3 linked regions of the Homo sapiens genome follow. The protein of the gene in region 3 interacts with the protein of the main gene of each other region in a pairwise test. Each region holds a gene or a part of one and is shown on either strand. Other genes may lie near its edges.

What was found. The genes of interacting proteins can lie anywhere in the genome.
Region 1: the proteins of LDOC1 (region 3) and THAP7 interact in binary tests that used the Homo sapiens proteins (3 or more experiments, as listed by UniProt).
Region 2: the proteins of LDOC1 (region 3) and HDAC4 interact in binary tests that used the Homo sapiens proteins (3 or more experiments, as listed by UniProt).

The regions. Positions count from the first base shown.
Region 1 is NC_000022.11:20,999,059-21,006,796, forward strand, and holds THAP7 (THAP domain-containing protein 7), read right to left. Parts: upstream 3,061-7,738; 5' UTR 2,854-3,060; coding exon 2,774-2,853; intron 2,354-2,773; coding exon 2,198-2,353; intron 1,730-2,197; coding exon 1,589-1,729; intron 1,375-1,588; coding exon 822-1,374; 3' UTR 46-821; downstream 1-45. UniProt on the Homo sapiens protein: Chromatin-associated, histone tail-binding protein that represses transcription via recruitment of HDAC3 and nuclear hormone receptor corepressors.
Region 2 is NC_000002.12:239,047,961-239,055,232, forward strand, and holds the end of HDAC4 (histone deacetylase 4), read right to left. Parts: intron 6,874-7,272; coding exon 6,789-6,873; intron 5,642-6,788; coding exon 5,500-5,641; intron 5,177-5,499; coding exon 5,137-5,176; 3' UTR 208-5,136; downstream 1-207. UniProt on the Homo sapiens protein: Responsible for the deacetylation of lysine residues on the N-terminal part of the core histones (H2A, H2B, H3 and H4).
Region 3 is NC_000023.11:141,174,024-141,181,236, forward strand, and holds the start of LDOC1 (protein LDOC1), read right to left. Parts: upstream 3,107-7,213; 5' UTR 2,999-3,106; coding exon 2,558-2,998; 3' UTR 1-2,557. UniProt on the Homo sapiens protein: May have an important role in the development and/or progression of some cancers.

The sequences.
Region 1 (7,738 bases), on a different chromosome or scaffold from region 3:
GGGACTAGAATGAATTTCATTTGTGCTCCTCGGCAGGGAGAGGCCATACTTGCAGTGAGTCACCCCAAGACGGAGCTGTTTGAGAACTGCAGCTGCAGCAAGGCCTTCCAGGTTCCTGGGAGTTGAAGGAAAAGGATGCTGAGGCCAGGACCTGAGTGCTTGTCTCCATGTTCTGGCCACCTCTTCCTAGATTTCCAGGGACTAGCTTGTTGGGGCTTTACTACCTGCTGACATGACCCAGGAGGTTGATGATTGTCATCATCATCCCCGTTTTTCAAATAGAGATGGTAGTGAAGGGGGCGGGGAGAGGGTTGTCCAGCTTACCCACCAGGCTGATGGGGCCTGTGGACAGAAGCCTGTCATGCTCCTGCTTGAGAACCGGATCTAGACTGGGTTTTAGAAGTGTTCTCAAAGGGGCTGGCTGGTTTAAGTCAGGGCTGTTTCAGATCCTATGGAAAGGGCGCCTGGAGCTGTCTTCCTGGCCCCTACTCACACCATCCTGCCCCTTCAGAGAACCCTGTGGGGCACGGAGCTGCGCTAGCAGGGCTGACTGCCACCTGTCTACCAGTAGCTCTGAGGGGTGAGAGCCAGGCTCCCTGTTCTCCTTGGCAAAGAGCTTGGACTGAGCCCTCTAGGAGCTGCAGCCACTGTCTGGGGCAGCAAGCTTAGTACTCAGAGGGGCTCCAGCCCCCAGCTGAGCCAGACAGCAGGCCCTCCGTCTAGAATCCGCTTTATTATGGCACCTGGTGGGTCTGGTGGGATCTGAGGGAGGAAGAGGCTGCAGTCTTGCTGGGCAGCCCCTCGGTCAGTCCAGCAGCCCCTCAGGCCATGCTGCTGCTCAGCTGCATGGCAAAGTCCTGCACATGCTCCTTCAGAGTCTGGCGGGCATCTGCCTGTGCCCGCTTCTCCCGTGCCCGCTCCTGCTGCAGCTTGGTCAGTCTCAACCGCAGCCGCTGCTCCCGCCGCTTGCAGGCCTGCAGCTGGCGCTGGGCCTTGTCAAGGGCATCAAGGGCTGCCTCGGCTCGCCGCTTCCAGAGTAAGGCGCTGCCCACCTGGTAGCTGTGTTCATTCTGGATGTAGGCTCCGGCGGGTGGGGGCAGGCGCAGCATATACGCTGAGGGGGAGACTGGCCGTGGTTCGAGAGGGGAGGGCTGCCGCTCTGGTGAAGGCTGGGCGCTGCAGCCTGCTTCATCTGCCTGGGCACCCAAGGGGCCCAGTAGGTCTGAAAAGGGGCTGCTAAGGCCAGGCTCCAGCCTCCCAGCTGGGGAGGCCGGCAAAGTGGCAGGTGCTGAGGCCTCTTCCACAGGAAAGCAGGTGACATCAGCAGGTGGAGGTGGAGAAAATGGAGTTGTGGGCCCTCGGCCCTCGGAGCAGCTGGTAAGGGGGAAGAGAGAGACTGATGGGCTAGGCTGAGGGCTTGCCAGACCCCCCTCCACCAGCCCACCTGATCCACCCTTAACACCCAAACCCGATCCACAGGTTCTGTGTAGCAAGAACCCTGTCCAGCGAGACTGCTGGCAGACACCCCTAGGGCCCAGTCCCTCAGCCTAGGGGTGGGAGTGGGGCATCCCCCACCCATATCACATACCGCTTCCTGCATCGTCTGAGCCGGCTGACTTCAGCGGGGCCAGGTGGGTAACTGTGTCCTTTGGTCTTGGTTGTCCGGCGCAACTTGGAGAAAGACTCAAATATGGTGGGGACTGCCCCCTCCTTTAGCCTGTGATATCCACTGCGGGGAAAAGCAACCCAGATGAGCTGGAGAGCAAGTGCTGCCTCCCCAGGCCAATCTGCCCCCAGCAGCAGCGCCGTGGGATGCTGGAAGGCATCGTGCAAACAATACGTCTGGGGAACGCCAAGTTACAGCTACACCAATCGCTTCCCCGCAGGACTCCTCACAGTCCAGGTGTGTGGAAAGCCTGCATAAGCCGAGCTGGGCTGACCAGCCAGAAAGAATTCTTTGATTTGTGGACTTGCTGGCAAGACTGGGGCTCTGAAAGATACTCTCTGGAAAGGCTCCTGTTTTCCCCTTGTGTCACAGGCACAGTGATCCTGGGGGTGGGTTTCACTGTGCAGAGCTGGGAACAGGAAACAGCCCCCTTGGACGCAGGCTGCTCAAGGGACTTCCATGACCTGCAGCTGTCCCAGTCCGCCGGGAGCCCCACATCCTACCCCAGCGTCGGCCGGCAGGGAGGCCCACCTGATTCCCACCAGCTCAAAGCAGTCCTCCTCAAAGTGTTTGGAGCAGAAGTAGATGTACTCGGATGCCGGGTCCCACAGGCCCTGGCCGCTGGGGTCCAGCCGCTGGCAGTTGGCCAGCCACAAGCCTCGCCTCGGGTTGTCCTTCTTGGGAAGTCTGTGGAGCCACAAACCCGTGAGCACCAGGCTGTCCACAGCCCTGGGCTCATGCTGCCCAAGCACCCCAGAGGGGAAACGCAGACCCAACACGCGCCGCCACGAGACCTCCCTGCGACCCCGCCGGGTAAGCACCACCGCCCGGGCACAGACGAGGCAACGGAGGCCTCGAGAAGAAAAGCAGTTTCCTCAGCGTCATCTGGCAGGTAACAGAGTGGGGCGGGTCCAAGCCGGCTAGACTTCCCGTCCTCCCCTTCCCGACTGCATTCAGTCCCGCCGGGACCGTTCCGCTTCACCTCCCACCCACAGGTTCAAGCCTCCTCAGTATCTGAGAAAGGCGCGAAGCCTCTACGCAGTTGCGACCCGAGGCGAGCAACAACTAGCGCATGCGCACGTGAGCCCGCGGCGCACGCGCGCTGACCTGTGGAAGGAGATGCCGCGGTTGCGCGTCTCGCGCGTGTCCCGTGTGCAGCAGCCGGCGGCGGAGCAGTGACGCGGCATCTGGGAAAGAGGCGGGAGTTAAGTCGCAAGCGGCTCTCCGGGCATCCGGAGGAGCCTCGCGCCTCCAGCCGCCGCTCCTCCCCAAGGGGCTCTGGCCTGTCGGGTCCCCCCCGGCCCGTTGTCGCCCCAACCCCGTCCCAGCCGATTCTCTTGACTTCTGTCAGCGGCACTCACGCTCTGGCCATTGCTGCGCCGCCGAAGTCTCGCGAGGGGTAGCGCGCGCCGGAAGTTGGTACCATAGAGACTGGAGAGCCGGAGGTGCCCCCGCCACCGGGGCGGGGCGGGGCGAGGTCCTAGCTAGCTGGGTTAGTAAGCGGCGCGAGCGTGCGAGTTTCTGACGCGCCCGCGTCGTCCCAGCTCCCTGGACTACCAGTATTGTCGCCCACGTGGGCTTCTCTTTCGTCCGCTCAGGCCTCACTTTTCTCCGTAAACACCCCGGCACGATGGAGCGGCCCCAGCGTTCGGGAGCGGCCCGGGAGCGGAAAGCGGCAGTGTCCTGGGAGCCTCGAAAGCCGCAGGGGCGGCAGCTCGCCTCGGAATGACCTCTGACGGAAGAAATAAAACGGGGCCTGGGACGCTTGCACGAAAGAACCCGACAAAAACCAGAGCCCGCACTCACTCTCGTACTGGGGAGGTGGACTTCAGGGAGGGTTATCTGGAGGAGGAATCTCTCAAAGTACAACACAGGAGAAAGACAGTATCGCAATACAGAAATTTTATTTTTTATTTTATTATTATTTTCCTGAGACCGGAGTCTCGCTCTGTCGCCCAGGCTGGAGTGCAGTGGCGCGATCTCGGCTCACTGCAAACTCCGCCTCCCGGGTTCACGCCATTCGGCTGCCTCACCCTCCACAGTAGCTGGGACTACAAGCGCCCGCCACCACGCCCGGCTAATTTGCAATACGGAAATTTTAATAGGTAATTAGCTCTCCTAGCGTTATGGTGGGGAATACAGAGGGATGGTTGCCTGCCGCACCCTCCCCTCACTATTCTTCGCCTTCTTCAGCCTCAGCTTCCACGGAATCCATGCCCACATCTTCATAATCCTCCAGAGCTGCCAGATCCTCGCGGGCCTCGGAGAATTCCCCCACTGCCATGCCCTCCCCCACGTACCAGTGCACTAAGGCGCACTTGGCCGAACTTATGGTCCAGGCAGGCCCAGGCCTCCGTGATGGCCGTGGTGTTGCTCAGCATGCACACCGCCCGCTGCACTTTGGCCAGGTCTCCCACAGGGACCACCGTGGGGGGCTGGTAGTTAATGCCCACCTGTCAGAGATGGGCAGCATAGAATGAAGTTTATATTGGCCTCAGAAATGGGAGCTCATTAAAAATCAGAGCTGTGGACCAGTTCCAACACTGTGTTTTAAGAATTGCTTCTATATTTTTTGGCATTATCTGTTATCTATCGACAATTAATATCCTTTGACGACTTTTTTTTTTCTTTTCTTCTCCTTCTTCCTCCTTCTCCTCCTTCTTTGTTGTTGTTGTTGAGACAGGGTCTAGCTCTGTTGCCCAGGCTGGAGTGCAGTGGTGCAATCTCGGCTCACTGCAACCTTTGTCTCCCAGGTTCAAGCAATTCTCCTACCTCAGCGTCCTGAGTAGCTGGGATTATGGGCATGTAAGATGGAGCCCGGAAGACGGAGATTTCAGTGAGCTGAGATTTCGCCACTGCACTCCAGCCTGGGCTACAGAGCGAGACTCTGTCTCAGAAAAAAAAAAAAATTATTACCCATATTACCCATACAGTAAAACACATGAAAAAGAATGAGAACCCTGTCTTGGGATATAAATACATCCAAGGTATATTGTATACTTTGTAAAAAGAAAAGTGAGTTGAAGTCTATGTATTTATGTGTAAAAAAATCCATGTAATAACATACACAGGCTAGAACCTTGGGCAGCTAGGGTAGCATCATGCCGGAGGAGGACAAACGCCTGCTGAGGTGGTGACCCTGCCTTGCCCTGCCAAGCACGTAGCAGTTAGCACCAACTAGATACAGACACACTCCACAGGAGTTGGAAGGGGCAGAGAGAAGGGTTCGTACCCTGATCAGGGAGTGTCCTCCCACAACTCTAAGGCCAAGCCTATCAGCCCTTCCAAGTGGGAGTGCTGCCAGCTTTCTGTTTACTGTGACCACCTGTGTGCAGCAATTGGGTCTGTCACCTACAGGAAAGGGACATACATATCTGCTGGCCACTGTCAACATCACCTGTATAACAAGAGATTAATATGCCTTGAATATGTACAGAATGTTTTTCAAAGGACAGAAGCAGCTCTGGGGAAGAAGAGGACTTCAGCTTTTCAGTCTTCTGCATTCTTTCAGTATTTTGCCACATATCAGGTTTTGTTTTGTTTTTGAGACAGGGTCTCACTCTGTCACCCAGCCTTGAGTGCAGTGGTGTGATCTTGGCTCACTGCAACCTCTGCCTCCTGGGTTCAAGCGATTTTCCCACTTTAAGTGATCCGCCTGCATCAGCCTCCCAAAGTATTGGGATTACAGGTGTGAGCCACCGCGCCCGGCCCATATCAAGTTTTTTTTTTTTTTTTTTTTTTTTTTTTTTTTTTTTTTTTTTTTTTGAGATGGAGTCTTGCTCTGTCATTCAGGCTGGAGTGCAGTGGCACAATCTCGGCTCACTGCAACCTCCACCTCCTGGGTTCAAGCAATTCTCCTGCCTCAGCCTCCAGAGTAGCTGGAATTACAGGCAACCGCCACCATGCCTGACTAATTTTTGTATTTTTAGTAGAGATAGGGTTTCACCATGTTGGCCAGGCTGGTCTTGAACTCCTGACCTCCGGTGATCCGCCTACCTTGGCCTCCCAGAATGCTGGGATTATAGGCGTGAGCCACTGACCGCACCCAGCTTTTTTTTTTTTTTTTTTTTTGAGATGGGTTTTGCTCTGTCGCCCAGGTTAGAGTGAAGTACAATGGTGCCATCTTGGCTCACTGCAGCCTCAACCTCCCGGGCTTAAGCAGTCCTCCTGTCTCAGCCTCCTGAGTAGCTAGCACTACAGGAAATGTGCCACCATGCCCAGCTAATTTTTTATTTTTTGTAGAGACAGGTTTTGCCACGTTGCCCAGGCTGGTCTCAAAGTCCTGGGCTCAAGCCATCCACCCAATGGATTACAGGTGTGAGACACTGTGCCTGGCCAACATAAGTACTTTTATAATAAAAAACCCAAATGTTCGTATTTTTTTTTCTAAGGGTCTTGTTCTGTCACCCAGGCTGGAGTGCAGTGGCGCAGTCATGGCTCACTGCAACATCTGCCTCCCAGTCTCAGGTGATCCTCCTACCTCAGCCTCCCAAGTAACTGGAACTATAGGTGTGTGCCATCACACCCGGCTAATTTTTTGTATTTTGTGTAGAGATGGGGTTTCACCATGTTCCCCCAATGGATCCTGAACTCCTGGACTCAAGCTTTTTTTTTTTTTTTTGGTGAGAGAGGGTCTCACTTGGTCACCCAGCCTGGAGTGCAGTGGTGCAATCTTGGCTCACTGCAACCTCCACCTCCTAGGCTCAAGTGATCCTCCCACCTCAGCCTTCCAAGTAGCTATAAGTGCGTGGCATCATGCCCGGCTAATTTTTTGTATTTTTGGTAGAGATGAGGTTTCACCATGTTGCCTAGGCTGGTCTCGAACTCCTAAGCTCAGGTGATCCACCGACCTCAGCCTCCCAAAGTGTTGGGATTACAGGCATGAGCCACTCGGTCCAGCCCCCAAATGTTTTTAAGCATGGAAAAGACTCTTCGAAAATAGCATATCCGAAGCTGGGTGCAGTGACTCACGCCTGTGATTCCAGCACTTCGGGAGGCCAAGGCGGTTGGATCACTTGAGTTCAGGAGCTCGAGACCAGCTTAGCCAACATGGTGAAACCCTGTGTCTACCAAAAATACAAAAATTAGCCAGGCTTGGTGGCGCATGCCTGTAATTCCAGCTGCTTGAGAGGCTGAGACAGGAGAATTGCTTGAACCTGGGAGGCGGAGGTTGCAGTGTGTTCCATTGTACTCCAGCCTGGGTGACAGGGCGAGACTCCATCTCAAACAAACAAACAAAAAAAAAGCAAATGGTTGTTAAAGAATGTATGGTTGGCTGGGTGCGGTGGCTCACACCTGTAATCCCAGCATTTTGGGAGGCCAAGGCGGATGGATCAACTGAGGTCAGGAGTTCAAGACCAGCCTGCCCAACACGGTGAAACCTCATCTCTACTAAAAATACAAAAAATTGGTCAGGCGTGGTGGCTCATGCCTGTAATCCCAGCACTTTGGGAGGCCGAGGCGGGCGGATCACTAGGTCAGGAGATCAAGACCATCCTGGCTAACACGGTGAAACCCCGGCTCTACTAAAAAATAAAAAAAAAAAAAAAAAAAACGTTAGCCAGGCGCGATGGCGGGCACCTGTAGTCCCAGCTACTCGGGAGGCTGAAGCAGGAGAATGGCATGAACCCCGGAGGCGGAGCTTGCAGTGAGCTGAGATTGTGCCACTGCACTCCAGCCTGGGCGACAGAGCAAGACTCTGTCTCAAAAAAAAAAAAAAAAAATAGCCAGGCATGGTGGCGGGCGCCTGTAATCCCAGCTACTCAGGAGGCTGAGTCAGGAGAATTGCTTGAACCGGGGAGGCAGAGGCTGCAGTGAGCCGAGATCACATCACTGCACTCCAGCCTGAGTGACAAGAGTGAAACTCCGTCTCAAAACAAACAAACAAACAAGAATGTATGGTAAATCACACTAAGACTGACAAAAAGGAACTTAAGAGCAAAGAGAATTAATTCAACAAGGTCCATCTAAGGCTGGACTATCTTCTGGGGGGAGGAGAGGCTGTGACTTTATCTCCCCACAGACTAGCCTCCCTACTGTCTCACAATACTTAGTTACAATAGGAAACCTCTG
Region 2 (7,272 bases), on a different chromosome or scaffold from region 3:
AAAATGAAGACACTCCTATGGGACCTGATTATGCAGGCAGAGGGGGACGGGCCTGCCGCTGGTCTGGGTCTAGGGGCCGTCCCCATGGGGTCCAGTGATTCCCATGCAGCCATCCGGATGGGACCCAGGGCACTGGCCATTCGGCCCACAGGGTCCCAGACATGCGAGAGCCAATGAGGAAGAGAGCGCACGGGCAGAAACCAGAGCTGGGAGGGCAAGTAACGCAGTCTTTATTTACACCACAAGATAACACGTTGCGTGATGTGGTACAGAATACTGGACTCCAGTGAAGTGGAAAGAAGGTGACCGTCAGAAGAGGATATCATTGGTCGGTGAAAATCCACCCACACAAAACAAGACAAGAATGAGAAAACCAAACACAAAACCTCCAACTCCACTGAGCAAAAGAAAGAACCATCGGGCACGTCCAGACAATCCAAGAGAAACGGATTAAATTACAGAGGTGAATGGTGGCCACGGCCAGTGCGCAGCTCACGGCGGGCGCGAACAGGCATCAGGTAGGTTACAGTGTCGTTACAACTTGGTTTTCTACCACATTCCGTAAGAAGCTCTTGGGTGAGTAAGGTTCAAGCCCCCTGTATAGATAGATAGATAGATAGATAGATAGATAGATTATATATGTTTGTCATTCTCATCAATTGGAAAATAGCGCCTCCACTATGGAGCACACACGGCAAAAAAAACAAACAAAAACTGTTCGCTTTCTTTTTCTTTCAATAGCAGACTTTTAATCAATGCCAGAGACAAAGTGAGGCCGAGCTAAGAACACGCTCAGCTTCGTTACAATGAAGAAATGGTTTCCTTTCGATGCAAAGTATAATTGTAAACCACAGTGCTCGCACAGTTCACGACTGCTTAAAGTGAAATCTTAGCCATACATCACCTAAAAGTAATTAAAAAGTCAACACAGCTGTGCGGAAAAGGGGACTCTTTCGAGTCCGCCCAGTTCTCAATCAGAATAAACCGTCACAAGGCCAGTGAGGGCGGGCGGCGCTCGCCTGGCCCGTGGAAGGAGATAAAAGGAAACAAACAAAACAAAACAAAACAAAATTCCTCCAAATCAACTCGAGAGAGACAGGCAGTTCACTGTGAATTCTGAGTAGTTTCCCTAAAACACTGTTTCCACATAAATACAATAAACTCTATTATTGGTATGTCACAAGTGCTAGATAAACTTTTTTTCTTAATATGACAAATGTTTAAGTAGTCCTTTTTATTTTTCTTACAATAAAAAGTACAATTTCTTAAGAATAAGTTCAATAAGACGCAAACTTCCCCGCCCTCCTCTCCTTCAAGGTTTTGTTTTACAGAAAAATTTCCATCTTTTGTATCTGCAAATGTCATGAGAGGGGAACAGAAAGGCATTTTTCTTCTTCCCCAAAGCTGCCGAGTTTGGCGTGCAAAATCTGTATACAATATAAAGTCATGCCGGTCGTACAGTCCATGCAACCTCCAGGTGTAGGAAACTTAAAAAAATATATTCATATATATTTATATCTATATATTTATATATGTATCAATGCCCATAAAACACGTGGGCCCAAAGTCTACAAAAAGAAGAATGGAATGAGCACGTGGCTGTGACCAGTAAAGAAGGAATGTTCTGATCAAAAAGAAAAACAACAAAGTCCATTGCTAGTGCTGCAAAAATCAAACTTGCTTTTGTGTCAGACCATTACGAAATGGTCCTTCCCCTTGCAAACAGATTTTCAAAAGAAGTAAAGAAAAACTGAAACACCTTGACAAAGTGGCCCTCCAGAACCAGAGCCCTGGGACGCTGGGGAGGGGCGGCCAGTCCCAGCGGGCCACGGCCTCCGGGACAGCCGCCTGCTGGTGGGGCGTGGGCACGTGGGCACGCTGCGGCACGGCGGGAAGCCGCGAGGGCAGGGCAGACGCCAAGAGGCCCAGTGGCGTCATCAGGGTTTCCCTCAAAGGGATATAAAGTGCTCGCTTGCTGACTCCCAGCCAGTGCCCCCAAGGCCTTTGCAAAGGAAGAAAAAGGCTAAAGGTCCAAGGACCCACAGGGAGAACACATGAAGGAACCCTCCCTGACGTGGTCCCGCCTGCAGACGCCGAGGCAGATCCTCTGCCATCTGCCCTGGACGCTTGCTGTGGAGAAGAGCCGAGTGTGTCTTCAAAGAAAAGGCTACACAGTAATGCTCTCAGCACATTTGTGAAGCTGGAGTGAGCTGACAGATGAAACGTGCCTCCCCCTGCCAGGCCTTTGCAGAGGGCGTCTCCATTTGAATGAGATTAGAATTAAGTCCCCCCACTGATAACCTGGCCACTGAGCAGTCCATGTTATCCCATCATCTGCTTAAAAAAAAAAAGTGAGATGATGCATTCCTCCCCATAAGCCACGGCGGGGTAAGAGGGCAGGTGGCAGGATCCCCAGAGGGCTATGCAGAGAATGAGGCCAAGGAGGCCAGAAGAGCCTGCTAGCTGGGCCCTGCCACTGCTCTGTGCCATGAATGGGGAATGGACCAGCTCCTCTTGCCAATCTGGGCTTCAGAGCAAAGAGTGGCCACCAGGGAGGGGAAAGTCAAACAAGTCCCAAGACCGTTCTGCCTGCTCTCAAACCACTGTCTCAGAGCTGACCATCAGCAGCCCAGTGACCAAGTGAATCCAAGAATCTGCACTCATTTGGTCAAAAGTTTGAGTTAATTTCAGAAGCTACCCTGTAAACTTTACCAAACTCCGAAACTCGGCTCTGGGTCCCTCCTGAGCACGGTGTGTCTGAACTTCTGCCCCCAAGTCTGAACCCAATATACACTTTGGAATGAAACTGGTGGCTTCATGTGCTGGAAAATAAGTTACCAGTAAAACGTGACTGTCAGTTACTGTTGAAGAGAAAAAGAGTAAAGACTGGCTGTCCTGGTCAGGCAATCATACCCTCCCTGCAGGTTCACCAGGCAACAAGGGTCCCTGGGTTCCTTGCAGCCACAGGCTCCAAAATCCAGGGCTGGCCACGTGGCTGCAGTGGAAAAACCCAAGTGGGTAAAGAGCCCCACGTGTGCCCCATGCATTGCTGACATGCTCAAAAGGTCTTTGGAAAACTCAAGTTAGAATTCTATCCTGACGATGTGGTCAGAGAAGTTTAAACATGAGTTTCATTAATGCTGACTGCCCCCGGCATCTGGCAAGCCTCCCAGGGTGGCCGGGCATCCTAAGCAACCCTCCCTGCCCTTGCCACGGAGGGGAAAAACACACCACCCCTCGTAATACTACTAGTGTTGAAAGTTAAAAAGAGCCCCTGGGCTTCTTTATACAGCTCCTAGGACAGACCAGGAAAGACACAATCGTTGGTGTCACTCCGAAAAGACCTACGGTCCCTCCTCTCACTTTCTGAAAATAGAATCTGACAGCAACAATTCTGTACGCTGCAGAAAACTCATCGTACAAAAATAAAAACAAAAATAATTAAAAACCTTTGAAAGGTAAAAAAAAATGTACAAGCAAGAATTCAGAAAGGAAAAAGATTTAGACATTATTACCATTCAGAAAATTGCTAAATGGTGAGGAAAAATGTAAAATTCATAAAACAATGCTTATTCAGGATCTTTTTGTGAAAAAATTCATACAAAAATCAACAGCAAATTTATATTCTTTGCTATAAAAACTCATTAGGTACATATGTGCATGAAGGCTTGGAGACGGGAGCGGTTCTGTTAGAAAATAATTAAAATGAAAGTACAAACTTGTAGGGTAGTTGCCCAGTGGCGAATGTGTTGGCGATCTGAAATCTAGCCAATCTGGAGCTTGAGAAAACATGAATTTCAATCAATCAGGATCCCTTTCCATAAGCACCTTGAGAGCAAATTCACAAGCCATCCATTTGCAGGGACCTTCGCAATCTGCATTCATTTTATATATATATATATACTTTTTCTATAAATGCATTATAAATATTTTATCAAGATTTCATAAGAATCAAGTAAGTTTCTTAGCTTGGAATACATTGGAATATATATTATACATATATATATTTATTTATACCTAAAATTTAAGCAATACTTCATGCTACTTGCTTTTAATAAAAAGCATTCCGATCGTAACACTGCAAGTGTGCCTACCACATGCTTCACGACCAGATGGAGATGCTCAATCGTATGTGACGTGTGAGAACACTTTGGATTCGTTTAAAATTTGTTGGACTTCAAAACCTCCAACGGGATTTGCCACTTTTTTGGAACTACCTCCATTTTTCTTAAACAGCAATAAAGCAAAACAGGGACCGCCGGGCTGCAGCCCCTGGCCCCGGAGATGACGGCTGGTGCCCGTGCTTGAGGCGTCAGGCCAGCTCGCGGTGCCAGCACTGCCAGGCTCGGCTGGCCACAGGAAACTGTCCCACCGATTCCTGCTGTTTGTTTTTTCTTAAGGCATTGTTCCTCAGACTTCAGAAAACCCAGCCACAAAAATCCACCAGAGCAATAAAAAAAAAGGCACAAACTCGCATCTTCCGATGGCTTTTGAGAAACTCAAGCCAGCTCCCCCAGCTCACATTCCTGTTTCTGTCCAGTTTTGTTTTCTTTAAAGGTCCCTCTGTCCCCCACCCGGGTGCAGACCCCCCGCCGCACACCGCTATGGTTCACAGAGGCGGGCCACAGCCGTAGAAAACGTCCTCTTTAAAAAAAAATAAGCTACAAGATGAGTCGAGTGGTTTACACAGAGACTGTGGAGTTGTGGGTAATAAACTTTAAGCACCAGTTTTAATCAAGTTTGTTTTGTATTATTAGATCTTTGATATTTGTTTTCTGTGCCTCGTGTCAACTGAATTCGGCAGCTCGGCCGCCTGTTGCCACAGGCTCCTTTCTTCCACGGCGTCCCTTGCGGGACCCGCCAGAGTGTGCTTGGCTTCCGCGTGTCCGTGTGTCTGCGCGTCGCCGGCGTCTGTCCCGTGTTCCCTGTGAGGCTGCCACGCCCAGGCGTGCATGTGCGTCTCGAGACCTGTGGGCCTGGGCGGCAGAAAGGCTTCCCGTGGCTGTTGCACGCTGGGTGTCCCTGGGTGCTCCAAGAGAGCCCCACGGTGGGACGCAGGCGTGACACGGGAAAGTTTCTTGGCTGAGCTTCAAGACAGAGACAGACAGACAAGAGAACAGCAGCTTCGAGGGAGTGCTACAGGGGCGGCTCCTCTTCCATGGGCTCCTCATCTGGTCTGTGGATCCCGCAAGAGAAGGAGATGGGGGCGTGGGGCAGGTGCACCACAGAGAGGAGAGAACAGAACGTGGGTTAAAGGCTGTGTGCTGCCCCACCCGCCAGCCTAGCCCTGGCCTGGCAGCCCCGGGTCCATCTGTTCAGGATCTAATGCTCCTCATGCGTCTCTAAGGGGCTTTGGCACTGGAAGGAGGGGGCCACACTGGCCTGTCTCTAGTCTGTTGGGCAGGGCATGTGCCATAAAGGTTCTGACCCTGAATAGTGTGTCAGTGGGCACAGTGGGGCTGGGTGAGCCTGCAGGCGGGCGGCAGGGCAGGTGCTCACCTCTTTTCGGCGGGCTTCACGCCCACGGACAGCGAGGCCATGGCGGTGACCGTCTCGGCTTCTTCGTTCTCGCAAGTCTGAGCCTCGATCAGAGAACGCCCCGCTGTGGAGGTTGTGCGCTGCAGGCAGCGCCAGTACTTGCCTGGGGTGGTGGGGTGAGGAAAGTCGCTCAGTGACTACAACTTAGCAGGATGCACTGAGGCCCGGGAAGGTCCTGCGGGACCCTGAGCCTCAAACCAGATTGATCCCTTATGATTTTAAAAGCACCCGTCTTTGAAGAGACACGAAGCAGAAGACTGCATGGCTACAAACTCACAAAGACCCAAAAAATCTCTGGAAATGTTTCCCCATTGTGAGTGGCTCGAGTCCCTCCAGGAGCAGGCCCACCTAGGACTGCAGAGGGAGGCTCCTGTAGGCCTGGCTTTCCACGCTCACGGGCCCCTTTCTGCCCTGGGTGGCCAGGGCAGGGGGCTGCCAGCCTGCTGGGTTGAGCCTTCCTATCTCTGGGAGCAGGTGAGCTGGGGGATTGTCGCTGGGGCTGAGGGGTCTTCTGCCTGGGCCCTCACAGAGGCTGGGGGTGGAGGGGTACTGCGTCAGGCGCAAGGGGGTGTATGTGGAGGGCTGGGCCTGGCCCAGGGTCAGCTTCAGGGCTCTGAAGCCAGGACTCCCTCACACAGGGAAACGGGGAGCTGAGCTCTGGACTACCCCTGCTTCTGTGGACAGTCTCAACCATCTGGGTCATCTCAAAGGCAAGACAAGCTGGGCTTGCGACAATGACAGGGTGTGGGAGGCGCCTCTGAGATAGGCTGCGTGCCACGCCCTTGCACCCAGGACCTGCTGCTTGAGGGTCGGTGCCAGAACTCAGAGGGCCTACACCCTGCCTCTCTGCAGGGCCAAGGGTTCTTTGAGGTCAGGACGTGGGCTTCTCTGGTCCAGGGAAGAGGCCGGAGTCCCCAGGGTACAGGCTCACAGCCATGGCCCCCGCTGCTAGCTGGGGACCTAGAGCAAGTGACTCCACACTGAGACTGTCTGGGCCTTGATTCTCTAGACTTACAAATTGGGCTGATGGAACCATCCCAGCAGGCCGGGGGAAATCCAGTCGGGGTTAAATGTGAGTCTCTACCAGCTCAAGAAATGCAGCTGAAAGCAAGGCCTTCTGCTGCAGGCCTGGGGAAGCAGCCGGCAGTGGGATGGAGAAGAGCTGGGGGTATAGGGGGACAGGGATGGGGTGTGGTGCAGTCCCACCCCCAGGGGCGTGTCCCCTGTGAGCACCCAGCCAGGCAACTTACTGTGGATCTCCATGACTTTCTCCATGGAACGGACAGCGTTTGCATTGGGTCTTTGCTGTAAAACCTTTTCTGGGAGAGGATCAAGCTGGAAGAAAATGCATAAGAATATAAAGACTGCCAATATAATCCACACGTGCGTTAGACGGGTGTTCCGAGACTGCAACTGTTTCCTGAGCACAGAGACCCTTGTGGGGTGCATTTGCCCACAGAGTAGAAAAAAATAACTTTAAAAAGCCAAATGTGCCGTGGTATTTATAATTTTTTTGTAAAAGTGGATTTTTTTTTAGGACGCTATAAGATATTTGTGGGTTCCTACAAGTAGCAGGAAGAAAGACAGTCCCCAGGAGTGGGGCTGGCACCTGCACGTGAACTTGGTATCTGCCATCGACGCCACAGGGTTCCATGAGGGGGAGTGACGCTTACTTCATCACTTTTCTTTCCTTTGTCTTTTATTAATAAGTAAGAATGTCTGAATATCCCCTGA
Region 3 (7,213 bases):
AATGACTTTTGGTCTCACTGGATCCTTTACCTTTTAGATCTTGCTCACTTTTCCACATTTATCCCCAATTCAAGGCCTTTCTAGTTAGGAAGAAAGTGTAATTATCTGGCCTCACACATATTATGTCTCAAATATAATCTCTCTCTTCCAAGGGGTTTTGTATATTTTCCAAGGAGACTGGGAGAAGTGATCAATGAATTCTAAATAACCAGCTGTCTCCTTGATTCAGATTTGGAGGCGGCAGCTCCCTGAAGAGCCCCAGATCTCATTTCCACCCAAGCCTCAGCCTCTTTTATTAAGTCATACGCAACCCTGTCCCCACCCTCCAGAAACAGCTATCCTAGGGGTGAGATATAACTCCTACCCTGAACTTTGCCTGTCCACCACGTAAAACAGCTTTGTTTCTTGCTTCATATAAGACTCCAAAAAGTAAATGGGGTCTTATCATGCTCTCATTTCCATTCTCCCTGAACCTGCTCTGCTCCTCTTCACGCTGACATTTTCCTACTAAAGCCAGGCTCAGAGTCAGAGACTTGCTTTCTGAGACTTCTGTTCCCTGGCCCAGGAGTAACAGCCCATGGTTTGCTGAGTGCTCACCATGTAGCAGGGAAAGTTCTAAATGCTTCATGGGTATGATCTCATTTAATCCGCACCTATGAGGTGATTAATATGAAGACCCATATCTCATTTAATCAACACTGAGGTTTACCAGTACAAATACAATATCTTGCCTCAAAAGGCCTTAAACAGTACGGAAATGTGTTATCTAAATTAATTAAAGGTTATAAAGTCAAGTTGGCTCCAGACATGGTACAATGAGGACATCTGGACAGATATAAAAGAGAACTCTGAACCCCTCATATCCTCCTAAACCTTTCTAAGAGGCAGTCCTCTCAAATCCCCAACCAAGCTGCTCTGCATTAAACATTTCAATGACTTAACCTGGAGCAATGGCCTCACACAGGTATGCAGCTTCTTCTCAGCAGCCACCCCCTTCACTGCTCTGAACCCTCCAGGCCCAGAGATCTCAGCATAGCCCCTAGATAGCAGTACAAGGTCTGATTTAAGAGATAACCAAGCATCTTGCTAATTTCCATAGGGAGGAATCTGGGACACATCTATGAGTGGGAATTCTAAGGATGTCTGTCCAAGGAGAACGAAATGTTTGTTAAGATCAGGCTATATCTTTATGGGTGCACTTGCCCAGGATCCGGGACTTAATGTTAGCTGGAGCACCTGAAAGTGACATGTTGGCTATTTGGAGTTTGAAAGTGACAATCTACTATGTTGGCTCTCTGGAGTCTGAACTCAACAGCTGCACATAGGCAATAAGGATTAAGGGGCAGAACTTCCCTGGCACAGTGTTAAGGAATCCAAAAGCTCAGAGAATTAGGAGCATTACATATATATGTCCAGGTTTACGCCTATTGTTATGGTCTAATTATTAATACTGCTCTCTTTGCCGTCTGCTCAGCCAACCCTTAACCACGCCACCCTGGAGGACCCAGAGAACACACCCTTTGCCAGGGCTTTAAGAAATGCGTTGGTGAAGGGAGCATCAGAACCCTGACAAAGCCCTGAGGTAGCTGTCCCCAGCAGCCTGGAGATGACAGCGGGGAATACTAGGATTGGTTGTATTCCCTGATTTCCACGGGAATAATGGTAGTCAGAGTGACAGTGGTAGAGGCCAGTGATAGCACTTAACCATTAAAAGACAATCATTTCTTTTTTTAGTGCTTGATATTTATTGAAAATAATGCCAATGCTTTTTCCAGGTAGTATTGAGGAGCTGGGCTGAGTGCTTGTTTGTTTTGTTTTTAAGTACTATTTGTCCAAATGCACACATCTGTGGGACTGCTGCAATTTTGAAAGAAAAATGACAGCTGTGTAAAACCAGTGCATAGGAAAAAAGAAGTGTCAACAATTTGGCTGCCAGGCACACCGCGCCCCTGCAGCAATCTGGTGGGGCAGGGGAGGACACTCGGAGTAGGTAGAAAACTAACCAGGCTGAACGGCCCCTTCAGGGGTTGGTGAGCTGTCCAAATCAATGTCTGAAAAGGCATAGCCAACTCTGGCATTTTCCAGGTTGGTCCTGATCTCGAAAGGTGGTAGTCTGTAGGTGGGATGTGGTGAGTGGATGTGAAGTGGCAGCATAGTTCTCTGGGAAGATGTAAGCCTGGCAGCAGGGCAGGTGGCAGCAGCAGGGCTACGGGTGGTCTGCGCAGTTTGTAACAGGGGCCTGGCCAATAGCTGGGGTTCAGGACACAGTTCAGATTAGCAGGGGAGGGATCCCGGGGATGGCCAGGGTAGATGACACTTCCAAGCACTTCCGAGTGAGTGAGGCTCCAGCCCCGACCCCAGCAGCAGGTAACTGGAGCGCTATTCCTGGAACAAAGACAAGCACTACGGAGAAATGAAGAGAGAGAGCAGACGGGCGCGGGTAGGTAAGGGGACCGGAGGGCAAGGGGGAGAGCAGTGGCTCCTGGCGGGGTGAGGGCTGCGGGGAGGGGGTGGCGGCGTGCAGGGCCCTCCCCCCCGAGGCCCGAGGGTCGAGGGCCTAATAATCATCCTCCTCTTCTTCGTCGTCGTCGTCTTCGTCGTCATCCCAGCCAAAGCACTGTTTCATCTCATCGAGGAAGGCCCGGTAATCACCTAGGATGGGGCTATCCATCTCGATGTAGGGCACCACCCACTCCTCGGCTTCCCCGGTGAGGAGGCTGATTAGGAATGCCACCTTCATGGCGTCGTTGCAGAATCGGTTCTCGTTCACGAGCATGTAAGACGCCGTCTGCACGATAAACTCGGGGAGCCGGGAGCTCTCGCCATTAAACGTTTCGGGGAAGGGCACCGGGCAGCTCGGCGGACGTACCTGGCGCAGCAGGCTGGCCCTCTCGCACACCAGCAGCCGCAGCTGTTCCATGAGCTGGCTGTTCTCGATGCTCAGGGCGCGGTGCCGCATCAGGAGCGCGTGCAGCAGCAGCACCAACTCATCCACCATTGCGAACGGCCTGGAAGGACAGGACTCGGCTCGGTTCGGCTCGGCCAAGGTGCGCACGGAGCCCTCGCAGGAAGTGCGTGTCCACGGAGGCGCTTGGTGGCCAGGGGCGGGGGGCGGGGGGCGGTGTGCGCCGGGGTCCGGGAGGCTACGCAAGCTCCGCCCACGAGGCCATTCGGACGGACGGTGCGCCGGCGCGACGGGGGAGGGGCGTGGCTAGGCTGGGAGTGGGGGGGCCGCGGCGGCGTGGGGGCGTGGCCGGGATGGGAAGGGTGTAGACAAAGAGGGCGTGGCCAGGAAAAGGATGCGCTGGGTCGCTGAACCACCGGCTTGTGGTAGGTCTCTCGGCGGGCAGTTAAAGGCTGGGATAGGCTCCCCTAGCTCCTAGTTGTGGGGCCTGCGTTAGCAGAGGACTTGGCGAGCGCTGAGTCCGGTCTCAGAGAAGGTAAATTTGTTCAAACTGAAAGGATTAGCCACCCTTCTACCTAGGTAGCTTGCACAACTCAGTGTTCCTTCGTGGGTCTGTGGCCACTAGATTCTCTTGGCTTGATGTTTTATTAACACATTTTCTTTCTTATTTAAATCTCACTCAGAGAAGTATTGACACTGCTGGCTGCCCTGTGGGAGTCACACTTCCTTTTAGAATCATGAAGACCCTCAGGGGGTCCTGCCTTTCATGAAAAAGGTAGTATTTAAACAGTGACTTCTTTAGTAGGGAAATAATATGGTATACACACACACACACACACACACACACACACACACACAAAACCTAAGTAACAAGATATAAAAAAGTTCTGCAAAATCAGCATCCAATAGTCAATTGCAGGCATCCCACATATCTTTGATTCTCTATTTCTTGTCTTGCTATTAGTGCCGTTGGCCACTGGGTATTATTCTGTACTTAAAAATGAACTGTTAAGATGTTTGTGTTTTTAAATAATTTTGTTTTTCTACTTTGAATGGATCCCTGATTCTAGAGCCAACATGAATTGTTGGCTCTGCTTTCAAATATATTGCCAATTCAATCACGTCTTGTCATTTCTGCCACTGCCACCCTGATTCCTAGCCTTTCTTTCTCACCCAGACTGCTGCAACTAATCACTTAGCTTTCACTCTTTTCTTCCTATAGTATATTCTCCATAGAGTAGCCACGGGAATCCTTTAAAACAAAAATTAGGGCCGGGCGCGGTGGCTCACGCCTGTAATCCCAGCACTTTGGGAGGCCGAGGCGGGCGGATCACGAGGTCAGGAGATCGAGACCATCCTGGCTAACAGGGTGAAACCCGTCTCTACTAAAAATACAAAAAATTAGCTGGGCGTGGTGGCGCATGCCCGTAATCCCAGCTACTCGGGAGGCTGAGGCAGGGGAATTGCTTGAACCCTGGAGGCAGAGGTTGCAGTGAGCCGAGATAGCGCCACTGCACTCCAGCCTGGGCTACAGAGCGAGACTCCGTTTCAAAAGAAAAAAAAAAAGATCCCTTCACTCTCCTGCTCAAAATCCTCCAACAGTTTCACCTGAGAATAAAGAGCAAAGTTGCAGCCAAGGCCTACAAGGCCCCTCCTTCTATCCTGTGCCTCTTCCCAGTTTCTGCTGTGCTCTAATCACTGTCCTCCTTGCTGATTCTCACACCCATCAAGCAGTTCTGGCTTCATAGCCTTTGCATCTTCTATTCCTTCTGCCTTGCAAGGCTGTCATCCCAGTTGGCTGCCTGACTCCTCCTACTGCTTTCAGAGAGAACTTTTCTGACCACCGGACCTATCAGAGCACCCTGTTCTCTGCCCCCAATCTGTAACCCTTTACTCTGCTTCATTTATCTACATAACATTTATTGTGCTACCGGCCACCATGTCGTATGTATATACAGTACTTTGCTCATCATCTGCTTCCATTTTAGAATATATAAGTCAAACACTGCTTTTGCTATCTGGTCTATCCCTAATGCCTAGAAAAGTTCTGGCCCAGAGTAGAGGCTTCATTAATGTTTGGCGAGTAAAATCATCCCAGAGTGAAGATGCTGAGATGAAAATCAGAAGTTGTCGCTGCACAAAGAGTCAAAAAATACTCTTCAAATTGTTAAATGTAAGGTTGGGCGTGGTGGCTCATGCCTGTAATCCCAGCACTTTGGGAGGCTGAGGGGGGCAGACCACCTGAGGTCAGGAGTTAAGACCAGGCTGACCAACATGGAGAAACCCTGTCTTTCCAAAAAATACAAAATTAGCCAGGTGTGGTGGTGGGCGCCTGTAATCCCAGCTACTTGGGAGGCTGAGGCAGGAGAATCACTTGAACCTGGGAGGCAGAGGTTGCCTGAGCCGAGATCACGCCATTGTGCTCCAGCCTGGGCAATAAGAGCAAAACACCATCTCAAAAAGAAAAAAAAAAAAGAAAAAAAATTGTTCAGTGTATTTTATCTCTGACCATGGATCAGTCTCGATTGTGAAACAATGACTGATGTAATAAAACTGGCTGAATAGATTTTTAAAGAAATTCGATTCGGTCCTTTAGGATAGAATTGAATGATCATCCATGGAAGTAGGAGGCTGGGAAAGAGCAGAGAAACAGGGCCAAGCCCCAAGCAGGGACACGGGGAAGATCACAGTGGTGAAAGGATAAGCAGTGAAAAAAAGAGATAGGAGGAATGTGAGCTTTTGGCCTCTCCTGTGCTATGAGCTCCGCCACCTGAGAAGTTGGCAGGCAGGGATCCACTCTCACTCTTAATTTTATCTTCAGCACCTGGCAGTGTTTACTAGCTGCTCCGTAAACATTCAGTGTAAGGATTGAGGGGAGGGATGTGAAATGTGGAAAGTAGGTCTCTGGCCATCATGCCCATTTACAGTTCAGAGTACAGGATGGGCCTGACTGGGACAGAGGTAGTGTCCAGCTTCACCTTTCATATCCAGGCCCTAATACAGGAAGAGTACTCAGGGTTCGACTCCTGGGAGCACACTTTCTTTCTTTCTTTTTCTTTTTTTTAGACAGAGTTTTGCTCGTGTTGCCCAGGCTGGAGTGCAATGGCACAATCTCGACTCACTGCAACCTCCGCCTCCCGGGTTCAAGCGATTCTCCTGCTTCAGCCTCCCGAGTAGCTGGGATTACAGGCATGCGCCACCACGCCCAGCTAATTTTATATTTTTAGTAGAGACAGGGTTTTTCCATGTTGGTCAGGCTGGTCTCAAACTCCTGACCTCAGGTGATCCACCCGCCTCGGCCTTCCAAAATGCTGGGATTACAGGCGTGAGCCACCGCGCCCGGCCTAGAGCACACTTTCTGTAGCAGACACTGGGCCAGGTGATTGGCAGGGCTGTCACAATGACTCATACACAAGGACCAGACATGGGAATGGGCATTTTAGAGCCAGAGACCCAGGAGGTAAATATCTAAACCTAATAAAGCAATAGGTTGATGGTGCTATACCTTCATGCCAACCTCTCTAACTCTAAAGCCCGCCCATGCCCTTGCTCTGAATAATTAATATGTGCTGGACCCTTGTGACTTCAGTGGGCCCAGGCAGGTCTAGTGGGGAACCAGAGATGATTAGGCAGATGCTGCCCTAATTTTCTCCCTACAACCCCACAGCAGAGGGATTCAGGGAGGAAACCAGACGAGGCAACCACTATTGTTCCCTCTGAGTGTGCTCTGAGACCCTGGAAGACAGGAAATGTCCTGCCCAGAACTGAGCAGTGACTTTGGGAGGTGCTTCCCTGGTTGGAGAAAGGGAATGGAGACAAGCAGCTTAGCACTGACTCACAACAGAAGCAGTCAGGAAGAGGTATGTAGTATCAGTTGATAGAAGATGTAGAATCTTAATGCTCATTTTAACCAGCTTCCAGGTGCCTGTGAGGCTCTCCCACCAGTGCCAATGCATATCAGCACTTCCTTCTCCATTCACCCTGCTCACAGCTGCATGTCGCCTTCCTCATTTTCTTTCCCCTTCTCGAGTGGCCCTTAAGTGTTCCTTTCCACTTAACGTGAATATGCTGGGGGCAGACACAAGTACTCCCTGTGACAAGTACTCATAGGGAGTACTTGTCTCGGGCCAGTAAAATTTATCAGGACAGCTCTGGGTTGGAACGCCCTAAGGGTGGCTTAGACTCCACCGTTTGGCAAGAGCACAAGTCCAAGGCACTCACTACCACCATGTTTCAGGCTCCAAACCGTGCCCTGGTACACATCAAGCATCCAGACTGTAAAATTCTCTTGAACATGAAAATTTCCCA